2 separate regions of the Homo sapiens genome follow, and region 2 is linked to region 1. Evidence: fine-mapped expression QTL. A gene starts in region 1. The other region holds a variant in brackets. All regions are shown on one strand. Distances are from middle to middle. Region 1 holds the start of SLC25A34 (solute carrier family 25 member 34). Region 2 holds the start of PLEKHM2 (pleckstrin homology and RUN domain containing M2).

Region 1 (8,317 bases):
CCATCCCTAAACCCATAGTCACAGAGCAACCTGAGGGCCAAGACGGACCTCCAGGGGGCAGCCCAGGAATGGACCCTGGAGCTCAGAGGCATCACCCCCATCCCCGCCTCTGCTCCCGATCCCTGGAGGGAGATCCCTGGAGGGAGAGCAGAAGGGCTGGCTGGTCCCCTGGAGTGTGGACTTCTGGTGCAGACCAGCCCTGGAGGCCCCAGCCTGCCTCTCCCCTGCCCCGCTGCCAGGTCATCCCCCAGGGCGTAGCTCCCAGCCCCTGCATACCCTGCTGCCTGGTCCTCACGGATGACCGCCTCTTTACGTGCCATGAGGATTGCCAGACCAGCTTCTTCCGCTCTTTGGGCACAGCCAAGCTGGGCGACATCAGCGCCGTCTCCACCGAGCCGGGCAAGGAGTACTGCGTCTTGGTGAGCTTTGAGTGGGGGCGGGGCTGCAAGGCCTGCAGAAGGAAAGCTCTGGCTGCTCACCCGGGGGCCTGGCTCTCCCTAGGAGTTCTCCCAGGACAGCCAGCAGCTCCTCCCGCCCTGGGTCATCTACCTGAGCTGCACTTCTGAACTGGACCGATTGCTGTCTGCACTGAACTCTGGGTGGAAAACCATCTATCAGGTACCCAGCTGCCCAGGAAACCCATTAGCCAGGGACCCTGTGGAGTGGGAGCCACTCCCCGGGGAGAGGAACCCCTGCTGCTCCCAGGACTTGGCCCTGCCTCCAGGGTCCTGGGCACAGCCATGTACCAGGGCGCTCCTGCCTCAGCCCCGGGGGTGAGTGCCTGCTGCTCTTAAAACAAACCCAGAAGAGTCCTCACTGTCCTTGCCGTCTCTTGCTGCGCACAAGCCTGCCAGGCTGGGAGCCCGAGGCCCTCAAGCCACTCAGCATTGCTGCCTCAAGGGCCTGGGAGGGAAGGGGTGGGCCCTGGGAGGTGGGTGTGGGACTCCAGCCCCGGTGGTTCTGCCTCTGGTTTGGACTGGGCCTTGGGTGATTGAGGGTGGCCTGGCAGGAGAGAGCTGTCTGGGGGCAGAGGCCAAGGTGGGCATGTTGGTGCCAGCCCCAGACTGAGCAGACACACCTGACAGGCACAAAAACTTAGAATCAAAAGGACAAAACCCTGACTCCCAGTGAGTCTGAGGCCAAAGCTGAAAACAGAACCCAAGAAGCTTAATTCCTGACCTCAGTTCCAATCAAACAGCACGAATTGTGGTGGACCTCCAGCTGTGCTCAGATGGGGGGACACAATATTGGCAGTACCCTCTTCCTTGCCCTCCAGGCTGAGTGCCAGTGTGGGAGCGTGCTCATGAGAGCCCTGCACAAGCGGGTTTTGAGCACATGCTACGCTCTAGCCCCGTGGAAGCCTGGACTAGTTAGAGGCAGAGAACAGCTCAGGACAGACACCTCCCTGCAGAGCCAAACAGAGTGCAGCGCCTGCCTCGCTGGGCCATCCTGAGAGCTGGGGCCTTCCCAGGAAAGAGGGAGCTCGGGGGGCACCACCCCATCCTCAGCTCAAGCCCCTGGAAGAGCGGGAGAAACTAGCAGCGTGGAAGATGTTCCCAGGGAGAGATGGGGAGGGCCTGACAGGGGCTCCGTGGCCAAGGCAGAGGCAGGCCTGGTGCCCACAAGCCCTGAAGACTCCTGTGGCCCTCAGTGGCCCTCATCTGTTCTCTGCACGCCCCAACACAGGTGGACCTCCCCCACACGGCGATCCAGGAAGCCTCCAACAAGAAGAAATTCGAGGATGCCTTGAGCCTCATCCACAGCGCCTGGCAGCGGAGCGACAGTCTCTGCCGCGGCCGAGCCTCCCGAGACCCCTGGTGCTGAGGCAGAGCTGGTTGGCGTCCCTGGTGGGCAGGAAAGGAAGGCACGCCAGCCGGCAGGCACACTGTCACGGCTGTTGTCATGCTGTCGGGAGCCTACAGTCCACCCCTGCCCTGGGCGGCAGAACCACCGAGTGTGGCTTAAGACAGGGTCCCTCCACTCCAGGGATCCAGATCAGGTGCCCGGCACCCCTGGGCATCCTGCCCGACAGGTAGCGAATGGAGGTCGCTGGGGGCAGAGGGTCCGAGCCCTGTGGGCTCTGCGGATGCACGCCCTCCTCCCGGGCCTCCGCCTCAGTCTGCAGAATTTCTGCCGAGTGGCACCGAGAACACCATCCATCTAAGGACGAACAAAAGAACCAGGAGGGCGGGACCCCCCTCTTCCTCTCCTGGGTTGGGGGCTGGGGCCCTGAGTGCCCAGCCATCCTTGTTCGTGTTTGAACACTCTCCTGGCCACGTGGGGAAGCGGGAACACGGGGTGTCTGCGCATGTTTCCTCCTCCTAGCTCCATCACTGCGCACACAGCTGCCTGCCTCGCCAGATGCAGGGGGGCGGGCAGCCCTCCCTGGCTGCCAGGAGGCTCTGCATGCCCACAGTCCTGCCCTGCCTGTCCCCTCAACCCGGCAGTGCCTGTAGCACCGAGGAGCAAAGGGGGTGGATGGGGGGCTTGGAGAAGGGCGGAGCCCACCAGCCTGGCATCCATGTTGACATCTTCTGACTGTCCCCTGCTTGGCTGGAGCCAGGCCCTTCCCTAGAGTTTCGTCAAGAGCCTCCTGGGGAAGGGGTCAGGTGGTTTGGGTTTTGTTTTTTAAAATAAAATAGACATGTTATATTGCCAAGGCTTGTCACTGGCCCTTTTTGAGCAGGGTAGGGGAAGGGAGCTCTCCAAATCCCTTGGGCCCTTTTCTGCAAACCTTCCTCCATCATCTGCCCTGTGCCTGACACAAGGGACACACGGGACATGCAGAACCAGATCAGCCACCGCTGCCGGGCGGACTCACCGTCTGCAGACCCTCAGGCCCTGGGAGTTTCTCGGCCCGACCTTTGCCCTCCGTCCTGTTCCTGTTTGCTGCAGCAGCCAGGGGAGGAGCAGCCACCAGCTCAAGCCCCAGGGCACGTCTGCACCGCCGCCCACCATCTGCAGCCCACCCCGGGGCAGGACGCTCCTGCCTCCACAGCCCCGGGGGTGAGTGCCCAAACCCAGGAGAATCCAAGCTGTCCTCGCTGCCTCTTGCTGCGCCGTCCCCTCCAGGGCTGGCCAGAGGGTGACAACCCTGCCAGGCCGGGAGCCTGAGGCCCTCAAGCCACTCAGCATTGCTGCCTCAAGGGCCTGGGAGGGAAGGGGTGGGCCCTGGGAGGTGGGTGTGGGACTCCAACTTGGGTGGTTCTGCCTCTAGTTTGGACTGGGCCTTGGGTGACTGAGGGTGGCCTGGCAGGAGAGAGCTGTCTGGGGGCAGAGGCCAAGGTGGGCATGTTGGTACCGGCCCCAGCCTGAGCAGACACACCTGACAGCTGGCCCAGGTGGCGTTCTCTTCTCAGCGGGCACAAAGGGCATCCCAGGGCAGGCCTGGCAGCAAGTCCTTACCAGCCAAGGTCACTCCTCAAGTCCTACTCACCCAGGTGCCCTGAAGTCCTGGGAGCAGCGAGGGGGGCATAGGAGCCAGAGGCAGTGGGGGTGGGGGCGAGCAGGCGATGCGGGTGCCTTTATCGGGTGCAGCACTGACCTAGGCACACTCTTCTCATCGCCAGTCCTCCACAGAACCTTCTGGAGTGGATGTCAGTATCTCCATTTTACAAATGAGAGAAACTGAAGCTCTGAGAGGAAGTGACTTGCCCAGGGGTCACACATGAGAGCCACACCTGGGATTCCAATCAGCTCCCCAGGGCTCCAGAGCCCTTCTCTACTTCTGACCCTGCTGAGCATGGGCCTATAGACGGTGGGAGCCAGACTGAAGACTTGAGTCCTGGAAAGGGGAAGTCAGTCACCAGGGGCATATCAGGGGCAGGGTGGGGCAGGGGCGGAGTTGGCCGTGTACCCCATGCCAGGGACCTCCCAGTCACTTGCCCCCTGCCTAGGGCTCTGCCAAAGCTGGACAGGCTAAGCCAGAGGCAAGGCAGGGGTGCCAGCCCTTTGCCCAGGGCCAGAGGGAGGCCAGGAGGAGGTGCCTGGGCTGGTTGGCACCTTCTCCCTATCCACGCTCTCCCTCCAGTCCCAAGTGACCTTTCCCCCAGATCCCAGGGTCCAGGCCCGCCCTCGGCTGGCAGGTGTGGGCACAGAGGCAGCTGGGATTGGTCGCAGCTGGCGGAGGCGCGTCCCAGGCTCCGGCAGACCGCTGGAACAGCTGAGCAGAGCAGGTGGACTGCTGAGATAGACCAGGGACACCAGGCAGCCACAGGCCTGTCAGACCAGGACCCTTACCCTCTAGACATGGCCTCGGTCCCCTGCAAACCCCAGCCCCGTAGCCCTGCGAGGTTACAGACAGCCTAAACGCCACCACCACAGGGCCTGTGCCGTGCCCCTGACCCGGGCACAGAAGGCCACTGGCCCGGAGGCCATGGAGACGGTGCCCCCAGCAGTGGACCTGGTGCTGGGTGCTTCTGCCTGCTGCCTGGCCTGTGTCTTCACCAACCCCCTGGAGGTGGTGAAGACGCGGCTGCAGCTGCAGGGGGAGCTGCAGGCCCGGGGCACCTACCCACGGCCCTACCATGGCTTCATAGCCTCTGTCGCTGCTGTGGCCCGAGCAGACGGGCTGTGGGGCCTGCAGAAGGGGCTGGCTGCCGGCCTTCTGTACCAAGGCCTCATGAATGGCGTTCGTTTCTACTGCTACAGCCTGGCGTGCCAGGCTGGCCTCACGCAGCAACCAGGTGGCACCGTGGTTGCGGGAGCCGTGGCGGGGGCACTGGGAGCCTTCGTGGGGAGCCCTGCTTACCTGGTGAGTGGCTTGTCTCCATCGTCCACCCTCCACCATCCCATGACCCAGCTCCCACAGGGGCCCTGCAGCCTCCAAAGGCAGGGCTCAGTGGACCTGGGTGGGGTGGGGCAGCCGGGGTGGGGCTGCTCCCTGGAACATCCTAGCCCAAGCCTGGAATCTGCCCCTTGGCCCAGGGCCTTGCTCTGATCCATGCTCCCCTGCGGTCCCTGCCCCACTGGTCCTGAGCCAGGGGAGGGGGCAGAGGGTGTCAGATGTGCTGGCTCAAATCCTGGCTTGGTTACTTCTCTTCCCGCATGGCCTCATGTACGATAAGAATAAAAGCTACCCTTGAGGGCCTCCGCCTCGTGTGCACTCTGCAGGGGGGCCTCAGGGCCACCCAAAACAAATAAAAAATTAAAAAATGTTTTGAAGAAAGCTACCCTTGGCTGGGTGCAGTGGCTCACGCCTGTAATCCCAGCACTTTGGGAGGCCGAGGCGGGCAGATCACCTGAGGTCAGGAGTTTGAGACCAGCATGGTCAACATGGTGAAACCCTGTCTCTGCTAAAAAGTACAAAAATTAGCTGGGCGTGGTGATGCATGCCTGTAATCCCAGCTACCGGGGAGGCTGAGGCAGGAGAATCACTTGAGCCCAGTTGGCAGAGCTTGCAGTGAGCCAAGATCATGGCACTGTACTTCAGCCTGGGCAACACAGCAAGACTCTGCCTCAAAAAAAAAAAAAGGAAAGAAAGAAAAAAAAAGCTCCCCTTGAGCAAAGGCTCGCCTTGCCCTTGGCTGGTGCTGGAGGATCATTGTCTCACTTAATCCTCAGAACAGCTTTCCAACCGTGACAGAATTGAGGCCCAGAAAAGGTTAAGTAACTTGCTCCAAGTCACACTGAGACGCAAAACCCAGGCCAACCCCAGAGCTGCACCTCAACCCTATTTCACTTGACCCCTAAGCTTCAGGCTCGGGACCATGGAGCTGTGAGTTTCAGGGGCACGGGGGCAGGGCGCCCTCAACACACACAGCTCACCCTGGCTCTCCCAGGCTCCATCCCCACACCCGTGTCCTCTCTGCTCCCATAGATCAAAACGCAGCTGCAAGCTCAGACAGTGGCCGCAGTGGCCGTGGGACACCAGCACAATCACCAGGTGAGGCCTGCCACTCTCAGAGCTCCCTGGGGGCATGGATTGGGCATGCTCCCAGCCTAGGCAGGGGTGGCCAGTGACCCCGTGCCCTCTCCCCACAGACTGTCCTGGGTGCCTTGGAGACCATCTGGCGGCAGCAAGGGCTCTTGGGGCTGTGGCAGGGCGTTGGTGGGGCTGTGCCCCGAGTCATGGTGGGCTCAGCTGCCCAGCTGGCCACCTTCGCCTCTGCCAAGGCCTGGGTACAGAAGCAACAGGTGAGGAGCTGGGGACACCTGTGCCTATCCACAGAGACACACCGGACTGAGGGGGGCCACCTGCCTCCTTCCACACGGGGAAGACCAGGGGGTGGCAACAGATGGGGCCCTGCCTCTGCCCTCAGAGTCGTGACTCCGGCCCTTGGTACCAGCAGGAGTGTGGGGTCAGCAGTGAACCCCAAAGCTGAGAAGGAGCTCAGGGTGGCAGGGCTGGGGGATGGCTGGAGGGGCCTCATCTGCTCCCCTTTCTGTAGCCCTTTTAGCCCCTGTGTGGTAGGAGGCCGGGAGGGCACGACGTGGGTGGGTAGAGAGCTGTTGCAGGGATCAGCACCTGTGCCATCCCCACAGTGGCTCCCTGAGGACAGCTGGCTGGTGGCCCTGGCTGGGGGCATGATCAGCAGCATAGCCGTGGTTGTCGTCATGACTCCCTTCGATGTGGTCAGCACGCGGCTATACAATCAGCCGGTGGACACAGCTGGCAGGGTGAGCAGGGGCGGGTCTAGGGGAGACCGTGGGGAGCTGGGAGCACCCCCCCAACACACACACACACACACACACTCTCACACACTCACACTCACACATGCACAGCCAGAGACACGCAGACACAGGCCAGGTATGCAAACACATTAACTGGGCTTGTTTGCTGAGCCCCCGGGTCCCAGGCACAGGCTAAGCACTTTCACATCTGGATTTTATTCCATCCTTATAATCACATTCATCTTCCTGATGAGGAAGCTGAGGCTCAGACAGATCAACTGACTTGCATGAGTTCCCCCAGCTGGTAAGGGGAGGAGCCAGAACTGGAATTCAGGCCTGACCCCACAGCCTTCCCATGGCGCCGCAGCCTCACAGGTGTGTCCAATACAAAGGTGCTGTCCATAGGGTGTGTGGGGGTGAAATTGACCCGTGTGCCAAGATGTGGTGCCAGCCAGGGCCTCAAGGCCCCTGTAGTAACACTCACCCCATGTCTTTCCCCAGGGCCAGCTCTATGGGGGCCTCACCGACTGCATGGTGAAGATCTGGCGGCAGGAGGGCCCCCTGGCACTCTACAAGGGCCTGGGCCCCGCCTACCTGCGCCTGGGCCCCCACACCATCCTCAGCATGCTCTTCTGGGACGAGCTTCGGAAACTGGCTGGGCGGGCCCAGCACAAGGGCACCTAGACGACGGCCCTCACCCCCACGTCCTGACACGGCCGGCACTTGGCCGGAAGTGAGAGCCTGCTCCAGGACAACTGGCTGTCCCGGGGCGGGCCATGGGCCCAGGCCCTGCCAGAGGTCCCGGGAGAGTGTGGACAGCTCTGGTCCATCCAGCCCCTTGGCCCACCCAGGTCCAGAGCATCCACTTCAAGTTACCACCCATTCTGTCTTCCAGACAGTTCTCTTCCTTCTCTGTACTGCGTACTGGGTCACCACATCCCAGAGCCTTGCTCAGTTATAGCAACTGCTGCGGGCGTGCACATGGCATAGGCCCAGTAACTTACATACATCGGCTCACTTAGGCCTCAGACAGCAGCACGAGGCAGGCACTTTTACTTCTTTTACCATTAGAAAGCCAAGGCCTAGAGTGGTGGGCTTTGACCACAGCCACACAATTTTGAAGTGGCAGAGCCAGGACTGGAGCTTAGCCCTGCTCACCCTAGACCTATGCGCTTGACAAGTGCGTGACTGTGACAGGCCCATGGGCCCGGACTGCCCATAGGGGTCACTGTACCATGGCAAAGGCTGAGGTGCACCAGGAGGCTGTGGCGTCGTCACCTGCCTTATTTGCTGGAGAAGCTGTAGCAAAGAACCACAGACTGGGCGACTTAGACAATAGAAATGTATTTTCTCACAGTTCTGGAGGCTGGATGCTGGAGACCAAGGTGTCAGTGGGCTGGTTTCTTCTGAGGCCTCTGTCCATGGCTTGCAGATGCTGCTTTCTCTCTGTGTCTGCACATGGTGGTCCCTCGATGTGCGTCTGGGTCCTGATCTCCTCCTCTTATAAGGACACAAATCATGTTGGCTTAGGGCCCACCCTCATGACCCCACTTTAATTTTTTTTTTTTTTTTTGAGATGAAGTCTCACTCTGCCACCCAAGCTGGAGTGCAGTGGCACGATCTCGGTTCACTGCAACCTTGGCCTCCTAGGTTCAAGCAATTCTCCTGCCCCAGCCTCCTGAGTAGCTGGGATTACAGGTGTGTG
Region 2 (8,317 bases), 55 kb before region 1:
CATTTTTCTCCTTTGCATTGACCACTACCTAACATACTCTGTGTTTCACTTATGTATATTGTTTACTTTCTTTCTCTGCTATTAGAATGTAAGCTCCATGAGGGTAGGGATTGATGTCTGTCCTCAATACCATACCCTCAGTGTCTAGAATTGTGCCTAGTGCAGAGGAGCCACTTCACAGAGCAGGAGCACCGTTGTCTTGGACAAACACCACTTTACGTTCCAGCTCCCTTTCAAACCTCATGCGTCTTAAGGAAATCACTTCTCTTCTAATGACAAGCAGCCAGAAAGAGCAGACAGTAAGCACAGATAAGACAGCTCAGGCACAGAAGGAGGGAGAAAGTCTCGGGTAACCACCCAACTTCACACTCATACAATGAGCCCCAGTAAAACAGTGGGCCCTAATAAGCACATTCCTTTCCCTCTAGGTGCACTAAGATAAGGAAGCTAAAAGCAGACTCAGGGGGTGGGGGGATGCCTGCAGCTGCAGGAAGATGTATGGGAACAGACACACAACTCTCCCTCCCAGGTAAGCAAGACAAAGAGACACAGAAACATTCCGAGCCTGTGATAAGCTCTCCCACCCTGAACTCTTAAATACTCATAGTCTGTAAGAGAAAAGGCTCCTGACCTAAGTTGGCCAGAAGCCCCTCTCAGGTTTATACTCCAAAATAAGCCCATGTTTGACTGTTAAGCCACTTTTCATGTTTCTTTCTTCTTTCTTCAACTCTTACACCACTCAGATATGTTTTGAAAGAACAAATCCAGGAACACCATTTTGCTGCCTCAGTTTCCTGACTTCAAAGGCCCTGAGAGGCTGCCATAAGTGGGGTGACATAGCTAGTGGCAGAAGTGTGCCTGAAACCGAGACAGGTCAGTGAGGCCAGTTGAGAGATTCTAGCCCCAGTGACTGCTGATGCTGAGTTTAATGTAGATTTAAGGCAGATTACATTCAGGGGGGTTAGTATGCTTGCGGACTTCTATGTGAGGTAGGTTTTTTTGTTTTTTTTTTTTTTTTTTTAGACAGCATCTCACTCTATCACCCAGGTTGGAGTGCTGGAGTACAGTGGCACAATCATAGCTCACTGTAATCTTGAAACTCCTCGGCTCAAGCCACCCTCTCACAGCAGCCTCCTAAGTAGCTAGGGCTAGAGGTGCATACCGGCACACCCAGCTAATTTTTAAAAATTTCTTAGAGACAGGATCTTACTATGTTGCCCAGGGTGGACTTGAACTCCTGACCTCAAGCAATGTTCCTGCCTCAGCCTCCCAAAGTACTGGGATTATAAGTGTGAGCCACTGCACCTGGCCCCAGTGAAGTAGTACTTTTTATTATACCCACATATAAGACTAATTTGGGACATTGGCAAACAGTATCTCCCTGCTAATAGTTGTACAGACTTTGATCATAGTACCTCTAGTACCTCACCCATTATCTTCCTAGAATGGAAAGGCTCAAATCAGGTGTATTAGGCCATTCTTTCATTGCTATAAAGAAATACCTGAGACTGGGTAATTTATTTTTATTTTGTTGAGATGGAGTCTTGCTCTGTCACCCAGGCTGGAGTGCAGTGGTGTGATCTTGGCTCACTGAAACCTCCACCTCCTGGGTTCAAGCGAGTCTCCTGCCTCAGCCTCCCAAGTAGCTGGGACTACAGGCATGCACCACCACGCCTGTCTAATTTTTGTATTTTTAGTAGATACAGGGTTTTACCATGTTGGCCATGCTGGTCTCGAATGCCTGACCTCAAGTGATCCACCCGCCTTGGCCTCCCAAAGTGCTAGGATTACAGGTGTGAGCCACCGTGCTCAGTGAGACTGTGTAATTTATAATGAAAAGAGGTTTAATTGGCTCGTGATTCTGCAGGCTGCACAAGCATGGGCCAACATTGCTCAGCTTCTGGGGAGGCCTCAGGGAGCTTTTACTCATGGCAGAAGGTGAAGCAGGAGCAGGCTTATCACATGACAAAAGCAAGAGGAAGTGAGAGAGAGTGGTGGGGAGGTGCCACATACTTTTACATGACTACATCTTGCAAGAATTCACTCACTGTTTTGAGGACAGCACCAAGAGGATGGTGCTCAACCATTCATGAGAACTCCACCCCCATGATCCAGTCACCTCCCATCAGGCCCCACCTCCAACACTGAGGATTCCTTTTATTTATTTATTTATTTTCTTTTTTTTGAGACAGGTCTTGCTCTGCACCCAGGCTGGAATGCAGTGGCGCGATCTCAGCTCACTGCAACCTCCGCCTCCTGGGTTCAAGTGGTTCTCCTGCCTCAGCCTCCGGTGTAGCTGGGATTAAAGCACGTGCACCACACCTGGCTAATTTTTGTATTGTTAGTAAAGATGGGGTTTCACCATGTTGGCCAGGCTGGTCTCGAACTCCTGACCTCAAGTGATCTGCTTGCCTTGGCCTCCCAAAGTGCTGGGATTATAGGAATGAGCCACCGTGCCTGGCCTAAGGATTACATTTTGACATGAGATTTGAAACAAATATCCAAACTGTATCATCAGGTGTAAAGAGAAGCAACCTTACATCTGTCCTTAGTTCTCTCTTTTTTATTTTTTGTCACCCAGGCTGGGGTCTTGAACTCCTGACCTCAGGCAATCCACCCACCTCGGCATCCCAAAGTGCTGGGATTACAAGCGTGAGCCACTGCACCCAGTGTCTTTTGTCCTTTAACTTCCATGGCCAGCTAAAAACTTTATCTGCATTTTAATTAAGTTAAAAATTAATCAGAAAAAAGAAATTAATCAGAAAATTAATCAGAAAAAAAGAAACTGTAGCATAGCCCTTTCTATGCTACAGCTCAAGGCAGCTGTTCTAGGTTGATGGACAGCTCTCTTCCATGCAGTGATTCAGGGAACTAGGGTGTCTATATTTTATATGTCTGACATCCCCTTGGCTTCATTGCACTGGTAGAAGAAGAAACAGCATGGAAGAGGAAATTTGCATAGAATCCCAGCCTAGGAATGGATCACATTTCTCTGTTCATGTTCTATTTGAGAGGATTTGATCATATAGCTGTGCGTGTCACAAAGGAGGCTGGGAAATGTAGTGCAGCACTCTGCCTGGCTACAACCCTATTACTGTGTAAAGAGAGAGAAGATTTTGTTTTTTTGTTGTTTGGCTTTTGTTTTGAGACAGGGTCTTGCTCTGTTGCCTAGGTTGGAGTGCAGTGGTGCAAACATGGCTCACTGCAGCCTCAACCTCCCATGTAGCTGGGATCACAGGAACACATCACCATGCCTGGCTAATTTTTGGATTTTTTGTAGAGATGGGGGGTCTCACTTTGTTGCCCAGGCTGGTCTTGAACTCCTGGGCTCAAGTGATCGTCCCACCTTGGGCTCCCAAAGTGCTGGGATTACAGGCGTGAGCCATCACACGCAGCCAGAGAGAGCAGATTTGGGTGAATAGCTAGAGGCCCTCGGATGCGAACAGACCAGCATGCTTGAGAAACTAAGGTTGGTGGGGCTGGCACACACCAGCGGAGAGTTAGGAGATGAGTCAGGGAGGGAGGCTGGATCAGATCAGCCTTGGAAGCCAGAGAAAAGAGTATGGACTGTATTCTAAATGCTATGACAGTAGGCAGAGGCTGCAGTCAGCTGAGAACACGCCACTGCGCTCCAGCCTGGGTGACAGAGCGAGACTCTGTCTCAGAAAACAACAGGCTGGGCGCGGTGACTCACACCTGTAATCCCAGCACTTTAGGAGGCTGAGGCAGGTGGATCATGAGGTCAAGAGCTCGAGACCAGCCTGGCCAAGATGGTGAAACCCCAACTCTACTAAAAATACAAAAATTAGCCAGGTGCAGTGGCAGGAATCTGTAATCCCAGCTACTTGGGAAACTGAGGCAGGAGACTCACTTGAACCCGGGGGGGGCGGAGGTTGCAGTGAGCCAAGATGGAGCCACTGCACTCCAGCCTGGGCGACAGAGTAAAACTCCATCTCAAAAAACAACAACAACAAAAAATAAGAATAGAATCATTTTTCCTGGGTCACTGATTTGGAAATTAAGGCAAAGTGACTTGCCTGAGGCCCTAGCATGAGTCAGTTGAGGCTTTTAATTCTTGTTGCCTTTTGACTCAGAGTCCCATGCACTTCTCATGAGATCAGAAAAGTCTTGTGCAATAAAT[G/A]AATGAGCTTCAATTTCCAGCTTAAGTGACTCCCAATAACAAATAAGTATCTTGTGTTTTTCAGAGTCACCCTTTTTTTTTTGGTTTGCTTTTTGGGGTTTTTTAAGAGGTGAAGTCTTGCTCTGTCACCCAGGCTGGAGTGCAGCCACATGAGCTCAAGAGATCCTCCCTCTTCAGCCTCCAAAGCAGCTGAGGCTATAGACATGCACCACCATGCCCGGCTCGCCCTGTGTTTGACACGCAGAACGGATTCCATATTTGAACTCTGGACAAGGAGCAATTAGCTGCACATCAATGCACATTTGGCCTCTCCCTCTTTCCTGCAAGAAGTGTTGTTAGATAACAATGTCTGTTGTACCAGCTCACATACCTATGCAAACCTTAGGAATTTGGTAGACAGTGAGACCTTACATTCCTCTGAATGTTGTAAAATGCTGAATGTGACCATCTCCCAATACATGCAGATAAAAACAATATGGCAGAAATGCCACCACCTTCTTATGTCACAGACCAAGTGGACGCCCCAGGCATACAGCCAAGGAATAAAAATACCCACTGAGTGTACCATGTGCCCAAGCCATGATCAGCCATTCCTAGGGAGGAGGTGCCCAGCAGAACGCAGTGCTCAGCAGAAGATGGCCTGCTATTCAACAGCAGAGAAGAATCCCAAAGCTTGTTGGGTCAGTTTTGGGGGACTGCATTTTCATGAACCAGAGCTGCATCCAGCAGGTTGGGGCCTGTATGCACCCTAGCCAGGATGGAGTGGGAAGGAAGTGCGCAATTCTGACTCCACAAACACCTTTGGTAAGTAGGAGGCTATTTCTACTCATAGATACCTGGCTATTTATTTCCTCATTCAAAGTAATGTGTCCTCTGTCCTCAACCTTTTCTCTACCTATCCAGTGACTGGAGTCTCAACCCTCATCTGTTCTTATTCTGCTCTCTGAATATGAGAGGTAGATAACAACTCCAAAGAGGCTGTTATCTCTTGCTTTCCTGAACTCAGTACAAATAAGAAAACGCCCTGGGCTGGACATGATGGCTCATGCCCGTAATCCCAGCCCTTTGGGAGGCTGAGGTAAGAGGATGGCCTGAGCTCAGGAGTTCAAGACCAGCCTGGGTAACAGAGCGAGGCCCTGTCTCTACAAAAAATAAAATTCGCTGGGCGTATTTTATTCTGTACTCTCAGCTACTGGGGAGGCTGACGTGGGAGGATCCCCCAGGGAGTTCAAGCTACAGTGAGCTATGATCACACCCACCACTGCACTCCAGCCTGGGTGACAGAGTGAGACCCTGTCTTTAAAAAATAATTTAAGGCCAAGGCGGGCAGATCACCTGAGGTCAGGAGTTCAAGACCAGCCTGGCCAACATGGCGAAACCCCGTCTCTACTAAAAATACAAAAAAATTAGCTGGGCGTGGTGGCAGGCGCCCGTAATCCCAGCTACTGGGGAGGCTGAGACAGGAGAATCACTTGAACCTGGGAGGAGGAAGTTGCAGTGAGCTGAAATTGTGCCACCGCACTCCGGCCTGGGTGACAGAGCGAGACTCCGCCTCAAAAAAAAAAAAAAAAATTAGCTGGGCATGGTGTCACATGCACTTGTAGTCCCAGCTACTCGGGAGGCTGAGGCAGGAGAATCGCTTAAAGCTGGGAAGCGGAAGTTGCAGTGAGCAGAGATCGCACCACCGCATTCCAGCCTGGGGAACAGAGCAAGGCTCTGTCTCAAAAACAAACAAAACAAAACAAAACAAAAAAAACAAAAAACAAAGTACCACTATTTTGGGTCTCTCCTTGGGAAACTAAGGGGCTGGGGAGCGACCTTTGGAGGCTTGTGGGGTCCCTCTGAGATAAGCAATGAATCAGTATTTCAGATGCTAAGGGGACTTCAGGGATGGGGTGGCCTGAGCAGAGAAGAGGGAAGACCAGGGAACCAGAGTTGAGAACTGGGGTGTCTGAGAATAAAAAGGAGGGACTAATCTATGTGTCAGGATATATTTATTTGGGAACTTAAGGAGGGAAGAGAGCCAGGTAGGAGACTGACACCTCTAAGTGCAGGGGCTTTATGAGATGGTGGATTTGAGGAGGGTGTGTGGGAAGAGAGTTGTTACGGTGGGTTTCAGGGGCTGAGGGAGTTGAGGCCCTTGGGATACGTGGGGCTGAAGAAGAGGGATAAGGATAAGGAGTGGGAATGGGGCATTGGGGCTGAAGGTGAGGAGGGTGTGTTTTGGGGGTGGGGAGGAACACCAGGGACCTCAAATGTAGGACTGGGCCTTGAGGGTGAGGCACTGAGGAGGGGAGGCTGTGGAGGGCCAGGGGGCCCAGGGAGGGTCTAGGGCTGGGGACTGGAGTCTAGGCTGACCCGGTGGGGGTGCTGGGTCCTCCAGGCTGCGAAAGCCAGGGGGCCTGGGTCTGCACATTGAGGGGGTGGCTGGGCTAAGGAAGGGGAGGAAGATAAGTGGGGCTTGCAGGCTAAGAGGGTCTTGGGGTCCCTGGCCAGAGTTAGTGGGGTGCACTGGGGTCTCCAAGGAGGGGTCTGTGGACTAAAGAGGGCCGGCGGGAGGGGGCCCAGGGTCTGTGGGTGTCTCGAGTCTCTGAGGAGGGCCGGGGTCTCAGGGTCTGTGGGGGTCTCTGGCCTGTGGGGTCGGAGTCTCCAGAGTCCTTGGGGCCTGTGGGAGTCTCTGGGGTTTTGTGGGGGGATCCTGTGGGCTGAGGAGGGCTGTGGGGAGGGTCTCAGGGTCTCTGGGGAGGGCCAGTGCCTCGGGGTCTTTGGGGGTCTCTGAGGAGGGCTGGGGGCCCAGGGTCTGTGGGGGTCCCCAGCAGGTGGGGTTGGGGTCTCCGGAGTCCCTGGAGTCTGAGGGTGTCTCTGAGGTCCCAGGGGGGAGTCTATGGCCTGAGGGCTGAGGGGGAGGGTCTCCAGGGTCTCTGAGGAGGGCCGGTGTCCCGGGCAGGCGGGGTCGGGGTCTCCGGAGTTCCTGGGGTCTGAGGGTGTCTCTGGGGTCCCTGAGGGAATCTGTGGGCTGACGAGGCCTGGGGGAGGGTCTCCGAGGAGGGCCGGGGTCCCAGGGTCTGTGGGGGTCTCTGGCAGGCGGGGTCGGGGTGTCCGGAGTCCCTGGGGTCTGAGGGTGTCTCTGGGGTCCCTGAAGGAATCTGTGGGCTGAGGAGGGCTTGGGGAGGGTCTCTGAGGAGCCCCGAGGTCCCCGGCAGGCGGGGTCGAGGTCTCTGGCGTCCCTGGGGTCTGAGGGTGTCTCTGGGGTGCCGGGGAGAGTCTGTGACTTGAGGAGGGCTGGGGGCGGGTCTCGGGGTCTCTGGGGAGGGCCGCGGCCAAGGGTCTGTGCGGGTCTCCGGGTCCCCGGAGTCCCCAGGCGCAGGCGGGCCCTGGCGCCGCCCCGCCTGACATCAGTTCCTGCCGCCGCCGCCGCCGCGGCGCACAGCCCGCGGCCTCCTTCCCCGCCGGCCGCGCTCCGGAGCCTCCGGGCCGCGGTGGAGCGAGGGCCCAGGCGAGGCGAGGGCCGGGCGGCGGGCGCCGGGCCCCGCGGCCGGCACGACGGAGCCCCCGTACGGCCGGCGGCAGCGGTTGGCGGCGGCCCCCGGCCCCCGGCGCGGGAAGCGGCGGCGGGGCGGCGGCGGCGGTGGCGGTGGCGGTGGCGGCGACGGTGGCAGCGCCATGGAGCCGGGGGAGGTGAAGGACCGGATCCTGGAGAACATCTCGCTGTCGGTGAAGAAGGTGAGCGCGGCCTCCCTCCCGGCCGGGGCCCCTTCCTCGCCGCGCCCCCCACGCCCTCCGGCGGCGCTCTCCCGGGCCGGGGCCCCCCGCCCTTCCCCTCCGCGACCCGGGGGGCGACGAGCGGCCGGGAGCCCCGGGCCGGTAGAGGGGAAGCGGCGCCGCTCACGTGAGCGCCGCGGCCTCGGAGCTATTTTTAAAGAACAAAGTTGAGGTCAGCATCCTCGGAGCTTCCCCAAACCTGGCCCGGGGCCCTGCCCTCCCGGAGAGGGGTCAGCGACCCTCCGGTCCCCCACTGGGGCAGCGGCGCCCCCGGGAGCTCCTGAAGGAACCCCATGCAGCCTCCTGTGGAATCCGCTGCATCCCCGGGTCCCCCCGCCAGGCTGGCGTCGCCCAGGGTCTGGCAGTCAGGGTGGAGGCCAGTGATAAGCAACTTCACTTTCCCATGGCCTGGGT

Evidence for each region.
Region 2: its variant is fine-mapped to the expression of SLC25A34 in monocytes after LPS (Quach 2016, PIP 0.95).

Annotation. Positions count from the first base shown.
Region 1 is chr1:15,732,111-15,740,427 of GRCh38, forward strand. It overlaps SLC25A34 (solute carrier family 25 member 34), which reads left to right and starts at 4,148. Exons shown (of 5, transcript NM_207348.3): 1 at 4,148-4,753; 2 at 5,819-5,884; 3 at 5,983-6,135; 4 at 6,484-6,618; 5 at 7,114-8,317. The coding sequence starts at 4,376. The coding sequence ends at 7,296. It overlaps PLEKHM2 (pleckstrin homology and RUN domain containing M2), which reads left to right. Exons shown (of 20, transcript NM_015164.4): 18 at 240-419; 19 at 502-618; 20 at 1,687-2,659. The coding sequence ends at 1,824. SLC25A34-AS1 (SLC25A34 and TMEM82 antisense RNA 1) reads right to left here. Exons shown (of 2, transcript NR_149050.1): 2 at 7,941-8,112. RefSeq lists enhancers at 2,482-3,247, 3,248-4,014.
Region 2 is chr1:15,676,755-15,685,071 of GRCh38, forward strand. It overlaps PLEKHM2 (pleckstrin homology and RUN domain containing M2), which reads left to right and starts at 7,566. Exons shown (of 20, transcript NM_015164.4): 1 at 7,566-7,864. The coding sequence starts at 7,805. RefSeq lists silencers at 1,880-2,427, 7,420-7,499, 7,590-7,669, 8,190-8,259 and an enhancer at 3,130-3,630. The variant G/A (reference allele first, on the strand shown) is at 4,142.